2 linked regions of the Homo sapiens genome follow. The protein of the gene in region 1 interacts with the protein of each later gene in a pairwise test. Each region holds a gene or a part of one and is shown in the gene's direction. Other genes may lie near its edges.

Region 1 (7,469 bases):
ACTCTCATAGCCTCACAGAGATACCTAGCTTCTTTTTTTAAACAACCACACAGGATTCCAACACAGGGCTTGCCATTATTTATTCAGCATTTTCACCCTTTCTTGCAACTGTCAGTCTCCTGCATGAGTAGGGATCATATCTCAGTGATCTCTGCATTCCTGTCTTCTAAAGCACAGTTCTAAACAAATTGCTCTAAGAAGTGTATGATGATATGACCCCTGCCCTTAAGAATGTGTTCCTATTGAGTCTTCCTGGGAATTGGGAGCATGTCATCAGGGGGTGAGGAGGTGAGTAGTTGTATGTCTAGTAGGGGGAGTGGGAAGGTGAGTTCTACCAGAAATCGAGGACATGATTCTTTACTTCCAGAAGCCATGAAGAAAATGATGCTTTTTTTTTTTTTTTTTTTTTTTTTTTCTCAGAGACAAGGTCTCACTCTGTCTCCCAGGCTGGAGTGCAGTGGCACAATCATAGCTCACTGCAGCCTTGACCTCCTGGGCTCAAGCGATCCTCCTGCCTTAGCCACCCAAGTAGCTGGGACTACAGGCACATGCCACCATGCCTGGATACTTTTTAATTTTTTTTTTTTTTTGGTAGAGATGGGGTCTTGCCTCATTGCCCAGGCTGGTCTCAATGATTCTCTTTTACCTATGGAAAGAGAGGGCAAGAGACAGATTTATCTCTTCATAGAAAGGCTTTTCCCAGAACCAGTGCCTCCTGATTACTAAGATTGGGACTTTTGGTCTCCGTCAGCCAGGCAGTGCTGGTGCTTTCCTGCCCTGATCTGGGTCATTATCAGCTGCTGCCCTCCTCACAGGAGCAGTACATGTCTTCCCAGTGGGCAGGAGCAGCCAGGAGGGGGAAGGTGGATTTTACTTTGATCTTGAAGGATTGGGAAGACTGTGCCTAGCAATGGTGAGAGTAGGGGTAGTGAGGGAGCTGGGGAGGAGCCTTCTTGGGGACAGTGGCTGTGATTGGAAGCTAAGGATGAAGTCATAGGAGCTGGCTCTGCCTATTCCATCACCAGGATGATGTCTAACCCAGAGCCTGCCCTGCTGATGAGAAAGTCCATGGGCAAGGATGCTCTGGGAAAAGTTCTAAGTTTCCAAACCCCAGGCTCTATCCCTGCAGCTCTCAGCCATAGTTTTATTTTCCTTGAGATGATCTATTAATATTTCTAGTCTCCAAAGTCAAGCAGACAGCCTGCTGGACCCTGTCTAGAGATGGCTCCCTGGCTCTGGGGTGTTAGGGATGACATTCTTCATGGTCCCATGTGGAGGAGCCTGGATTAAGCTCACATCCAGAATCAAGACATCGGCTCTGGGCTGCCTGAAAGATGGCGAGGATTTGCCCTGAGTGTTGAAGGCTCTAACCCAGTGGCTTTCCTTCCTAGTCTTTGGTCACACCCCCACCACAGTCCTACGTGGCTCAAAGACCAAGGATCTAAACCCAGTTGTGAGCCTACTCCTCTTTTTGCAATTATAGTGTTATGCCTCCTCCCTTTTGCACAGAATTCTACAAACTTAGGTTCTGAAAGACATTTGGAGGTCCTACAGTCTCCAGTTTGTCATGCCTTGGGGAAGTGGTTCTCAAAGTGTGGTTCCTGGACGGGTAACACCAGTATCACCTGGGAAATTGTTAGAATTGCAAATTCTTGAGCCTCACCCTGGACCTCCTGAATCAGAAACTCTGGGGGTGGGGGCCAGCCGTCTGTGTCTTAACAAGACCTCCAGGTGATTGCGATGCATGCTCCAGCTTAAGGACCACTGCCTCTGTGCAAGACTGCCCTGAACCAGAGGGTTGAGAATTTGACCAATGTTGACTTTCTTCTGGAAAGGCTATTCCATCTCCTCACTCAGGTATACCCTCAGGCCTCACCAAGACTCTTTGCTTTCTGGCTGACGTAGATCCCTCTTCTTGGCACATGCCTATATGGGTAGCAATGGGGGTGGGAGAATACTTTGTTGAGTTGCTTTCTCAGCCACCTTCGCGTGTCAGCGTGGGGGCTCTGTTTCTAGCAGGTAGCAAACTTCTTTCCCAGTTCATGTGGGTTAGCAGTGGGGTATACTCAGACCATCTATATTCTGACAACTGACCGAGTAACCCTTTCTGTTTTTATGGATCTCAGATGCACAGACTTAGATTAATCCTAATTCTTGGCTCATGCCATATGTCATTATTGGACCATTCATGGTTCACTTTTTTTGCTAATTTATATATTAATTATATATAATTATATTATATATTAATATAATGAATATCCATGAACTCACCACATAACTCAGCAACTAGAATATAAATTAATTACTATTAACTAGAATGTAAATAGTAACTAGAATGAATTAATAAATACTAACAAAATAAATTAATAAATACTAATAAATTTATTAGTATTACTATTAGAAGGTAAATACATTAGTTAATATTAAAAATAAATTGTTTTTAACTAAAATATAAATATTGACTAGAAAGACATGGTAATAACTGTAATATAATTATAATTAAATGTAAATCAATTAATGCATATTTGCATTAATTTGCTTACACTTATTGATTCGAGCTATGCCCTGACTCAATGACTGAAATGCTGCCAACACCTCTGCATCTTCCTGGATGCCCCACCCCATCCCACCTCCCGTATCGCCTCCAGATGAACATTATCCTGAATTTTGTGTTCCTTATTCCCTTGCTATTTATGAAAAGTTTTATCACATGGATGTGTGTGCCTAAACAAGGTATTGTTTGGTCTCAGCTGTTTTTGAACTTGATGCAAAGTGTAGCCTGCTGTGTGTGGTCCCTCTGCATCAACCCCCAACTGAGTCTTCTGTTCTCAGCCCAGTGGTAGCGCGCTCTGCGGGCCACTTAGAAACACATCCCATACCGCACAGCCTGAAAAATGATCCCTTCTAATGACTCTGACGTCTCTGCAGCTCCAGGCAGAAGCTGTCACAAATAGGCACAGACAGCCAGGGTTCCAGGCTGTGGCAGCCAGTGGGCACGGTGCCCCCCCCACCACAACACATCCTCAGTGGGGTGGGGGTAGAAGTGGGAACTGGGGCCCCTGGGGCTGCTGTGTAATCCAGGAAAGCCAGGTAGCAGGTGGAAGGGCAGGAGCCCCAGCAGAAGCAGGCCTGGGTGCAAGCCCTGGTTTTTTCAGGTATCAGCAAGGTAGGCAGATCAGACATTGGAAAGGACTTTGGGCAAGTTTACTTTCTGCGCCTTGGGCTCAGGCAGCTCCTTTCTGCCATTGACATCCTGTGACATTGAGTCATTTTCCCACATTAAAGAAGCTTCTTGGTGCATAGTCCTCAATTCTCCAAAAGGCCTATGAATTCTCTAGAGAATATAATTCCAAACTTACAGCTAGAAAAATTATATCCCAGAAAGGACGACCAGCCACTTAGCCATTGGTCAGTGAGATGGGAAGCAGGATTCCATTCCCTTTCCAAAAGCACCAGGAAAACTCTGGTGAGAGGCCAGTCCCTGCCATTTGTACCCTCAGCTCCCTGTGTTCCCAAGCCCCATCCTTGGTCATAGTGCCCACCCTACTTCTCACTATTTGCCTGAATGTCTTCTCACTGAGGCTGTATGATCGGGGGAGGAGGGGACAAAGTGGTGTTCATCCCGTTTGCTGTTCCCCAATTCTACAGCCATACCCGGCCTGTGGCAGGCATCCTAAGTGGAAGTCTGTGGAATGGTGAATGAATGCACTGCACTAGGAATGCTGCAGGCAGTACTGGTCATGCTCACTTCAAAATGTAGAAGAAAAGCTGCCTAAAGCCTAGAATCAGAGAGACTGTGATGGGGAAGGGAACTGTGGGAGGGAGAAAAGGGGTATGTGGGGCCAGAATGCTAAGAGCAGGGAGGCATCTTCAGAATGGGGAAGGCTGAAAGCCAGTTGTACAATCTGGATGGTCATAGATGGGGTTGGGGCAGGGGAAGGGAAAGCTTTCCTCCCTGACAAGGAGAACTCTAGATGTTGTCCACAACCCTTTCCTGAGCGCCCACCCTTGTGCACGGTGACATTCTGGATGTTTTCCAAGACATTCTCCACCAGTAGAGAGAGGCGGCATATCTTTGCAGACCAGAGCCATAGTTGATGGACTAATAAAATCATATACCACTCTAATGACCAAAGACTTGCCTGATGCAATGGCTTAGTAAGTCCCTAACATGGGCCTAATATGTTTTAGGTAGGGTGGCCATGTAACGCATCTTTCCATTAAGGACACGTATGCAGGTGAAAGGGAGACCTATTAATCATTATGCCAGGAAAACAGATGTGAACTGGAACTGTCCCAGGCACAGCAGGAGGTTTGATCACCCTTAGTCTATGATCCTTTCCCTTTCTCATCTCATCTCATCCTCACAATACGTCAGGAGGTGAATATCATGAGCCATATTCTGCAGATGTGGAAAAGGAGCCCCAGGTCACATCGCATGTCAGTGGCAAAGTGGACACTGGACACGGGGCTATTGTCACCTAATTAATGTCTTTCCCACTCTACCTTCCCAAAGGAGGTCAGGAGATGCACTGCGATTCAGCCATGGCTGTGTGTCTACGTCACCTGCCCCTCCACGCCCCCCAGAATTACTGACTTCAAATCTCTTGGAGTAGAATCAAAACATTGACTTTTACTCAGCTTCTCCTGGGCACTTTGATGGAGAATCAGGATTGGGAAAACTGGTTTAGACAATTACTCCATGGCTAATGGGCCCATCATGGAAACGAGATGTTTATGGATGTTCTTAACCCTTTGATGTTGATATCAAGGAAAATAATCATCTTCCTCCAACTCAAAGTCGGCATGTTTTGGGGACTACCATCAGAGGCAGACCCCATGGCTGACAAATCTGGGCCAGGAAGTCTCTGGGGGTCTCATAAGGCATCGGATTAGGTGACAGAAGGAGGCTGCTTGAAATCCCTTTGCCTGAAGGTCTTTAGGAACAGGAGAGAGACACCTGTCTGAGCTGGTGTAGGTGGAAGTGGGGGCGAGAGTGCTGTCAGTCATACACTGACAGTCTCCACACATAACCAGGAACTATCTTTTGACTATTTAGAGGTAGCTGGGAGAGATGGTTGTTGGGAGCAGGTGGACTTTGTCTGCAGACAGCAGTATGCCCTGAAGGCCAGAAAGGCTGGATGTGTTCAGGAACCCAGGCAGGGTCTGAAAGGGATAGACTGCACATTCATGATCCTCCTTCCCTTTCCAAATGTGCAGGCTGCACTTTCTCCCCATGACCTTGAGTTTGCATCGATTTCCCAAATGCACACACGGAGGGCTACTTGAGTCTCTCTCCAAACCACTGACATTTGATCAAGCCAGTTCATTGTGAAGGGCAGAGAAAGACAGACTCTTCAGTGCTGTTAAAATTGGCCTTGGGGTTTTGAAAGCTCTTAGAGGTCACCTGGTCTGAGTCAGTGCATGATCAAGCCCCAGTTGGCGCTGTGTGAACACCTGCCAGGGTGGACCTCAGGTGGCTCATATGATTGTGGGACAGCTCTAATTCTTGGTAAATTAAAAATCTGCCTTCTAATCATGCCTAGTGACTAGCCTTTGTTCTGCCCCCAAAGCCATGATAAGGCCACATGTAAGTCTTTCCATGTGACAGCTTTTGAAGTGTTTTGAAGACCCTTATCTTATCCCCAAGTCTTCTCATCTTTATCCTTAGTCCTAAAAAAAAAAAAAAAAGAAATCCTGGTAGAGGAATGCAACAGCCCAAACCAAGAGGAACTTCCTGTAATAAGATGGGTTCTTCTGCAGTCTGTAGATTCCAAAGGCCCCCAGGGTAACTGGAGTACATTGAACTCCAGTACGAGTACATTGAAGCACTACAGACATTTGCTCTTTGGGTTCTTACCATCATTCATTTATTCAATACTCGTAGATCTACCAAGCACAGAGGCAGGCACCGAGGAAGCAAGGCTGGCCCGGTCCCTGCCCTCATGGAGCTTGCAGTCCATGGAGGATGCAGACAAACGGGGATGGGGGGAAGGCATTTATCTTGTGTGACAGGCACCGCAATAACAGGAGCTCAGGGTGCCTTGGGAGCTCTCAGTCCAGGTTTTGCGGGTCAGGCAAGGCTTCCCAGAGGAAGGATGAGGAAGAGAGAGGCTGGAAAGGAGGGAGAGGAAGGATTTCAGAGACAGCTGCTGGCAAGGACGGTGGCCTCTGAGGCAGAACTCCTCACATTTAACTGGAGAATATATCGTGTGCTGAGAGGGGAGGGAAGAGACTCAATGGCAGATATGGGGGAGGCGCAAGTACCACTATGGCTTTGGGTCATACAGGATGAATGAGCTGTGGGCCAGCATTAGGGCTGTGGAACAAGAACCATCCCTCATTTCTTTCTGATCTGGTTAGGAAGATACACCTGAAACCCTACAGCAGGTCTGGGCCAAGGTGCTAGGTTTAGTTCCCCGTGCACAGAGAAGCAGGCAGGGAAAGCTCTTTTTTTTTTTTTTTTTTTTTGAGACAGGGTCTCACTCACTGGTTTGCACCCAGGCTAGAGTGCAGTGGTATAGTCACAGCTCACTGCAACCTTGAACTCCCAGGCTCAATGCATCCTCCTGCTTCAGCCTCCTGAGTAGCTGGGACCACAGATGTGTGCTACCACACTCGCCTAGTTTTCTCATTATGTTGCCCAGGCTGGTCTTGAACTCCTGGGCTCAACCAGTCCTCCTGCCTCAGCTTCCTGAGTAGCTGAGGTTACAGCTATGAGCCACTATGTGTGCCCAGCAGGAAAAGCTAGTTGTAAGATTGAGGACCAAGTACCTGCCATATCAGTGGATCTGGGGAAACTGGTTTAGCTGTGGAGTTTGCATGAATGATGTCATTTAAGGGGAGATAGGAGGGCCTACTCTACAAATCTCTTCCCCATACTGTCTGAAGATCTTCATTCTGTTGAACTAATTAAAAACAGCAGCATGTTCAGATGCATGTATGTCCATGCATTTAGTGGGTGACAGGGTATTCCTCATCCATCCCTTGCTATGAACTTGTAGTATCGGGTTGTTTGTCTTCTGATCCCCAGCACTGAGGAGATGGGGATGTGATGGGAGGAGAGGCCACTGGGACTGAGAGGGAGTTCTGATGGGGCTTGGAGGAAGGCTATAAGGACTATGCACCTGACCCAACAAGAGTACTGGGGTGGGTGGTTTCAGTGAGTCCCAGGGGAAGCCCAGCAACTTCTATGCAGGGTCCCAGCCTCATCCCTTTGGAGACTTCGTCTCTGACTCTTTCTTCCCACCTCCCCTGTTCTCTCACCCCTCAGCCCCTGATGCTCCCTACACCCACTGGAAGCAGACCGTCTTCTACTTGGAAGATTACCTCACTGTCCGGAGGGGGGAGGAAATCTACGGGACCATATCCATGAAGCCAAATGCCAAAAATGTGGTAAGTGCCGAGGGACATAAGGACATAAGGGAGAAGGGCCCCACAGAGCTGGCTCGCTCAGGACCCACTTGCCC
Region 2 (7,203 bases), on another chromosome or scaffold:
CACCACAGGCTCTCAGATTTTGCCAGATGCAGTCTGTGCAGGTTGGGGTGGAGCACTGACTCATGTAACAAATGATGAGCATCTGCTATGTGAAGTCAGCTACCTAAACAGACAAAAACCCTGCCCTGCCAAGAATGGTGGCTCACATCTGTAATCCCAGTGACTGGGGAGGCCGAGACACAGGTGGATCACTTGAGCCCAGGAGTTCGAGACCAGCCTGGACAACACAGCAAGACCTTTCTTGCTACAAAAAATAAAAGTTGGCTGGGCGTGGTGGCTCACGCCTGTAATCTCACCACTTTGGGAGGCTGAGGCAGAAGGATCACTTGAGGCCAGGAGTTCGAGACCAGCCTGGCCAATGTGGTGCAACCCTGTCTCTACTAAAAATACAAAAAATTAGCCGGGCGTGGTGGCGCGCACCTGTAATACCAGCTATTCGGGAGGCTGAGGCAGGAGAATGTCCTGAATCTGAGAAGGCAAAGGTTGCAGTGAGCCAAGATTGTGCCACTATACTTCAGCCCGGGCAACAAAGTGAGATTCCGTCTCAAAAAAAAAAAAAACAAACAGCCTAGCTGTCGTGGTGGCTCACGCCTATAATCTCAGCACTTTGGGAGGCCAAGGCGGGCAGATCACAAGGTCAGGAGTTCAAGACCAGCCTGACCAACATGGTGAAACCCTATCTACTAAAAATACAAAAATTAGCTGGGGGTGGTGGCCCACGCCTGTAATCCCAGCTACTTGGGAGGCTGAGGCAGGAGAATCGCTTGAACTGGGGAGGCAGAGGTTGCAGTGACTACACTCCAGCCTGGGCAACAGAGTGAGACTCCATCTCAAAAAATTAAAAAAAAAAAAAAGAATAGGATACCTTTCCTCTTTCGCTTCCTGCTAACACACAATAAGGTTTTTCTGCTTTACTTTGCATGTGGGCTGAAAGGTCTCTCCCTCCTACTTTGGGGATGCTAAGCTAGCCCAGGTGTGACTTTGGCCTTGGGGGTGGAGTATGGGGGGAGGGAACACAGGAAGCTAATGGAGCCATCCCTACCTCCTCCTCCCCCAAAGCCACCAGCAGAGACTGGATCTTTAAAAAGCAACAGAAGCCTGGGAAGTAGGTCGCCCTGCAGCATCTCAGCCTCTATTCTAGTGTCAAGAGGCAGGAGAGGCTGAAAGTCCAGGCACATCCCTTTACAGTACTTACCTGCTCTGACCTGAGAAAAGTCTGAAGAGGGAGGAGAATCATATCCAGGTTTTGGTGAGTCACACAGCCCTGGCTTCTGACTATTCTAGTGCCTGTTGACTGTGTGATCTTGGGTAAGTCACTTAGCTTTTCTGTACTTCAGGTTCTTCATCTATCAAATAGGGGTAAAATAAAGAAGCATCTCTAGAGTCAAGTTCTAAAGTAAGGGCAATATTCATAGAATCTAACCCTGCCATTGTTTAAAACAGCTAGTGCTTTCCAGGGTGAAGAAGTTGGCTTGCGTTTGGGGACTGTGTTAAGTTAGTTGAAGTGCTGACCTTTGAACTCGGGGGACAGTGTGATGAGAGGCTTGGGAAGGGAGGCTGCTGTAAATTGAGAACACGTTTGTCTCACATTTCAGATTCGCGGTTGGACACCAATTCTTTTTTTTTTTTTTTTGAGACAGAGTCTCGCTCTGTCGCCTAGGCTGGAGTGCAGTGGCGCGATCTTGGCTCACTGCAAGCTGCGCCTCCTGGGTTCACGCCATTCTCCTGCCTCAGCCTTCCGAGTAGCTGGGACTACAGGCGGTCGCCACCACGCCTGGCTATTTTTTTTTGTATTTTTAGTAGAGACAGGGTTTCACCGTGTTAGCCAGGATGGTCTTGATCTCCTGACCTTGTGATCTGCCCGCCTCGGCCTCCCAAAATGCTGGGATTACAGGCATGAACGTGAGCCACCGCGCCCGGCTGGTTGGACACCAATTCTGTGAGTTTCTTTTGGCACAGAGAGCTTCTAATTGAACTAGGGTAAGTTTGCCAGGCATAGGGCTGTTGTGAGATTTGCATGAGATAACATTTGGCCTTTTTTTTTTTTTTTTTTTTTTTTGAGACAGAGTCTCGCTCTGTCGCCCAGGCTGGAGTGAAGTGGTGTGATCTTGGCTCACTGCAACCTCCGCCTCCCGTGTTCAAGCGATTCTCCTGCCTCAGCCTCCTGAGTAGCTGGGATTATAAGCGCAGGCCACCACTCCTGGCTAATTTTTTTGTATTTTTAGTAGAGACAGGGTTTCACTGTGTTAGCCAGAAGATGGTCTCAATCTCCTGACCTCGTGATCTGCCCTCGGCCTCCCAAAGTGCTGAGATTACAGGCATGAGCCACCACATCCGGTATTAATGAGATAACATTTGGAAACCACTTGACATGCAGTAGGTGCTTAAGAAATAGGAAAAAAGGCCAGGCATGGTGGCTCATGCCTGTAATACCAGCACTTGGGGAGGCCAAGGCAGGTGGATCACCTGAGGTCGGGAATTCGAGACCAGCCTGACCAACATGGAGAAACCCGGTCTCTACTAAAAATACAAAATTAGCAGGGCGTGGTAGCACATGCCTGTAATCCCAGCTACTCGCGAGGCTGAGGCAGGAGAATCACTTGAACCCGGGAGGCAGAGGTTGTGGTGAGCCGAAATTGCACCATTGCACTCCAGCCTGGGCAACAAGAGCAAAACTCCACCTCAAAATAAAAAAAAAAAAAAAAAAGGAAAAAAGGCCAGGCACGGTGGCTCACACCTGTAATCCCAGCACTTTTTGGGAGGCCAAGGCGGGCAGATCACAAGGTCAGGAGTTCAAGATCAGCCTCGCCAATATGGTGAAACCCTGTTTCTACTAAAAATACAAAAATTAGCTGGGTGTGGTGGCGGGTGCCTGTAGTCCCAGGTACTCGGGAGGCTGAGGCAGAATAGCTTGAATCCCGGAGGCGGAGGTTGCAATGAGCTGAGATCCCACCATTGCACTCCAGCCTGGGCGACAGGGCAAGACAGTGTCTCAAAAAAAAAAAAAAAAAAAAAAAAAAAAAAAAAAAAAGAAAGAAAGAAAGAAATAGGAAAACTGGGCCGGGCACAGTAATCCCAGCACTTTGGGAGGTCGAGGCAGGTGGATCACCTGAGGTCAGGAGTTCAAGACCAGCCTGGCCAACATGGCAAAACCCCATCTCTATTAAAAATGCAAAAAATTAGCCTGGCGTGGTGGCAGGCGCCTGTAATTCCAGCTACTCGGAAGGCTGAGGCAGGAGAATCGCTTGAATCCGGGGGCGGAGGTTGCAGTGAGCCGAGATTGAGCCATTGCACTTCAGCCGGGACAATGAGAGCAAGACACCATCTCAAAAAACAAAAAAACAAAAAAAGCCAGGCGCGGTGGCTCACGCCTGTAATCCCAACACTTTGGGAGGCCAAGGCAGGCAGATCATGAGGTCAAGAAATCAAGACCATCCTGGTCAACATTGTGAAACCCCATCTCTATTAAAAAAAATTAGCCGGGCGTGGTGGCGCATGCCTGTAATCCCAGCTACTCGGGAGGCTGAGGCAGGAGAATCGCTTGAACCCGGGAGGCGGAGGTTACAATGAGCTGAGATCGCGCCACTGCACTTCAGCCTTGTAACAGAGCGAGACTCCGTCTCAAAAACAAAACAAAACAAAACAAAGAAATAGAAAAACAAAAACAACAAAACAACAAAAACCCAAAACCTTGTCCTGATTCAACACTCAAATTCACCAGCTGGAGAGGAAGAAAAAATTCCGTGACCACACAAGGGCCAACAATGTGGACCACACATGCAGCAGGGGCTACTTTGTTCTGCCCCAAGGCTTGCGGAGGGCCGCTGAAAATTTGCCATATTATATGAAGGGGGTGAACCTTAACAAATTGTCTCCTGCATCCCAAACTCGCTCCCCATCTGATCTTTATCTGGGGCAGCCCCCAAATTTGACCAGAAAGCTCTTATCGTTCACACTCGCTCCAGGAACCCCCAAATCCAGCCCCAGCTCCCCAGTCTCACTCTTCTGCTCCCCATGCACCTCGGTTGGTCTAGAGACCCTCCTGCCAATTTGAGTCTCAGCCAAAACCCCAAAGCGCGGCGACCCTGGCGCATGGCAGGACGGGATTTGTAGTTCCAGGGCTTATCGGAGGGTGGGGGAGAGGGAGGCCTTTACGCATGCCTTGGTGGCGGCTTTCTGCACGTGTTTCTCAGCCCAGGTTTCAGTCCAGCGGAACTGGCTACCTCGGAATCCCAACTGCTCCTTTAGGGTGTCTTCCGCGATTCTCCGAGTGGAGTTAGGCGCCTGCCGACACTTCCCTAACCTTGGAGGCCCGGGACTTGATTTTCATGAATGAACGGAGCCGGGACTGACTTTGCCTACGGCAAGTGGGTTGAGATAGCTGTTCCCCTCCTTCAGGCAGGGGCAAAAATTGACCTCTGCCTCTCTCGAGGGTCAAAAAGTTCCTCAGGGCAGGGTGGGTTGTTCTTTGGGATTAGAGCTGGTGAATTCATTAAATATCGGCTTAGGGAGGGGCTGAATACAGTAAAAGAACAGCCTTGAGCCTTGGAGGGTAAAGCCACGTTTTTAAGGAACAATTCAGAGCTGGCCAGGTCATGCTTAACTTGGATGATCTCTAATCGCGCGAACTGCTCTTATACCCATTTGACAAGTGGGGAAACTGAGGCTTCAAGTGGCAGGAGGTCTCCCACTTTGTTATCGGCAGGGCAGGGAGGGGAAACCAAGACGCTACAGGGTCTCCAGCTTTTTACCATCTGCTCCTCTCTCAAGAGAAGGAAAAACGGTGCCCTACTGTCTTCAGACGTCGCAAGGATCAAGAAGATTTCTTTCTTCATGACCCTGCCCTTGCCAGAATTTCCTGCGCTGTTCCACCTCATTCAACTTCAGGTAGGGAAAGGGATTAGGCGTGGTTCAAAGTTTATTTTATTAGTTCATTTCGTTTTATTCAAAAATTTATATCCTTGTGGCTTTTTCATCTCCTTGTAAAAACTATCAAACAGTACTGGAAAATAATGCAAAAAGTGGCAGAGGCTTCTGTAGGAACCCGGCTTGTCTCAGGCACTTACTTTGTCCTGCTTTCTTTCCTTTGTCTCTGGGGTATAAAGAGCACGCTCAGCTCTTTCCTTGCGCACACACAGCGTACTCCTCCCAAGTACCTCTGGATGGGGGAAGGGAGGCACATTTCAATTTTTAGTGGAGGAAGGTGACAAGGAGGGTGCTGGCTCTGGCCGAGGGGTTCCTGGATCCATCACACACAAAGTCCCCACGCGCTACCAAACTCCTGGCTCCAGCTAAAGAGCTTGCGGTCAGGTCAGTGAAAGATGCTGGGAAAACGAGACACTGGGAGGACCGGCTGGCTAGAGAGGCCAAAGAAACGGCAACTCTTTGGTCACGTGACCGGACCTTGTCTCAGCCCGGGTTTCCCAAGTGCCAGGGCACGTGTGAAGGTTGAACCTTCCGATTGGCTCGGCGGGACCAGTTTGAACGGAGTACGGGAGCCGCGGCGGCTCACCTACGGCCGCGTTTTTCTTTTTTTTTTTTCTTTCTTTCTTTTTTTTTTTTTTTTTTTTTTTTAATTCTCTCTCTTTGGCTCCCTCCTTCCGCGCGAGTCTCTGGAGAAGCCGCAGCGCGAGTTGCCGCCGCTGCTGCCCGGGGCCGGGTAAGTGGGCCTCACTCAGAGCCCGACCCTCTTGGCCCCGGCTTGCGTCGACCCCCGCCGGGCACCGAGCCTGCGCCGCGCGCGGCCCGGGCGTCGGGGCCGCGCCCGACCGGGAAAGGCCGGGAAGCCGGTTGGGCCCGATCCTCCTGGCAGCTAGAACGGGCCGGGCGGGGGAGGGGGGAACCGAGCAGAGCTTAGGGGGTGGGGCCTCGGAGCCAGGCCATGTCGGGGCTCCTCAAGAAGAGGGCCAGTGGGACTGCTGGGGTCGGGCTGGAGGGGATCTGATTGGGGGAAGCGTCTGGGGACTGCTTGGGGCCTGATTGGGGGACGTCGCGAGGATCGGGTGTGTGTAGGGGCCTGTTTCGGTGGGGCTTGGTTGGGTCTGATTGGGGGAGGCCGCACTGAAAAGTTGAGCGGGGTGGGGGGAGGGGAGCTCGTTGGGTCCTGACAGGGAGGGGCGTCAGACTTCGGCCTAGAGGGTTTTCTTGGATCTGACTTCGAGGCGTTGCTGGGATCCGTTGAGGGGAATGCCCCGGGGGGTGTTTACCCAGGCCGAACTGGGGGAGGCTGCAAGGATCGGACCAGGGGGTTACTGACACGAGGTGGTGGGGGGCTCGGCCGAACTTGACTGGGAGAGGCAACAGAGATCCGTCAGCAGGGGTTACTGCTGACAGGGTCGGAGGGAATTTCAGGGAGAGGCTTGGCCAGACCTGATTGGGGAAGGCGACTGGGATCGGTCCAGGGGGCTCCTATAGTGGGTTGGCCGGGCTTGGCTGGCTCTCATTCGAAGAGGCAGCAGAGACCTACCTGGGGACTGCTTTGGGCCTGATTAAGGGGAATCCTTAGAATTTGGCTAGGCCACAGAGGGGGATATCTGGCATCCACTGAGCTTGAAGGGCAGGAACAGGGGACAGGAGAGATCAGGACGATCGTCTTGGGAGGGCGCATCTGGGGAAGCTCAGAAATTGGACTAGGGCAGGAGGCCTCTGGGATCTGGCAGAAGTTAAGGGCAGAGTGTCGGGGGAAGGGGACTCTTCAGGGACTGTGCCTGCATAGAAGAGACCACGGGGGCCGGGGCGCTATCACGGTCTGGGGCGGGGCCCCTGGATGTGGAGGCGGCTGGGCCCTCGCCCAGCCGCTGCGAGGGAGGTGGAAGCCTTCGGGCTCGGAGCCGGGGTCAGCGGCATGGGCCACCCTGGGACGAGGGCTCTTCGCTGGGTCCCATGAGGATCCGCCGGGCCCCGCCGCCGCCGCCTGTGGCCCGTTTCCACATCCCCCCTCCCGCGCTCCCGAGCCCGCGACTGCGCGGCCGAGGATGGCGCAGCTGGCGGGGACCCCGCACTTGGGCGGGCGTGGATCGGAGGCCTCCGCCTGTCCGCCGAGGGCGTTCCCGTCGTCATGCGGCCACCGCGGCCTCAGGGGCTCCACCTGGGTCTCACACGGAGCCCCAGAGACCCAGCGCTGACCCCGGCCCCTACCTCCGCAGCTTGCCTTGCGCCATGGACTGGCAGCCAGACGAGCAGGGCCTGCAGCAGGTCCTGCAG

Evidence for each region. Proteins that work in one complex are often made in the same cells at the same time.
Region 2: the proteins of PRMT8 (region 1) and TNPO2 interact in binary tests that used the Homo sapiens proteins (3 or more experiments, as listed by UniProt).

What each region holds. Positions count from the first base shown.
Region 1 is NC_000012.12:3,584,958-3,592,426, forward strand, and holds part of PRMT8 (protein arginine N-methyltransferase 8), read left to right. Parts: intron 1-7,273; coding exon 7,274-7,395; intron 7,396-7,469. UniProt on the Homo sapiens protein: S-adenosyl-L-methionine-dependent and membrane-associated arginine methyltransferase that can both catalyze the formation of omega-N monomethylarginine (MMA) and asymmetrical dimethylarginine (aDMA) in proteins such as NIFK, myelin basic protein, histone H4, H2A and H2A/H2B dimer.
Region 2 is NC_000019.10:12,720,933-12,728,135, reverse strand, and holds the start of TNPO2 (transportin-2), read left to right. Parts: upstream 1-4,203; 5' UTR 4,204-4,367; intron 4,368-4,770; 5' UTR 4,771-4,887; intron 4,888-5,575; exon of another isoform or gene 5,576-5,659; intron 5,660-5,876; exon of another isoform or gene 5,877-6,002; intron 6,003-7,145; 5' UTR 7,146-7,158; coding exon 7,159-7,203. UniProt on the Homo sapiens protein: Probably functions in nuclear protein import as nuclear transport receptor. Serves as receptor for nuclear localization signals (NLS) in cargo substrates.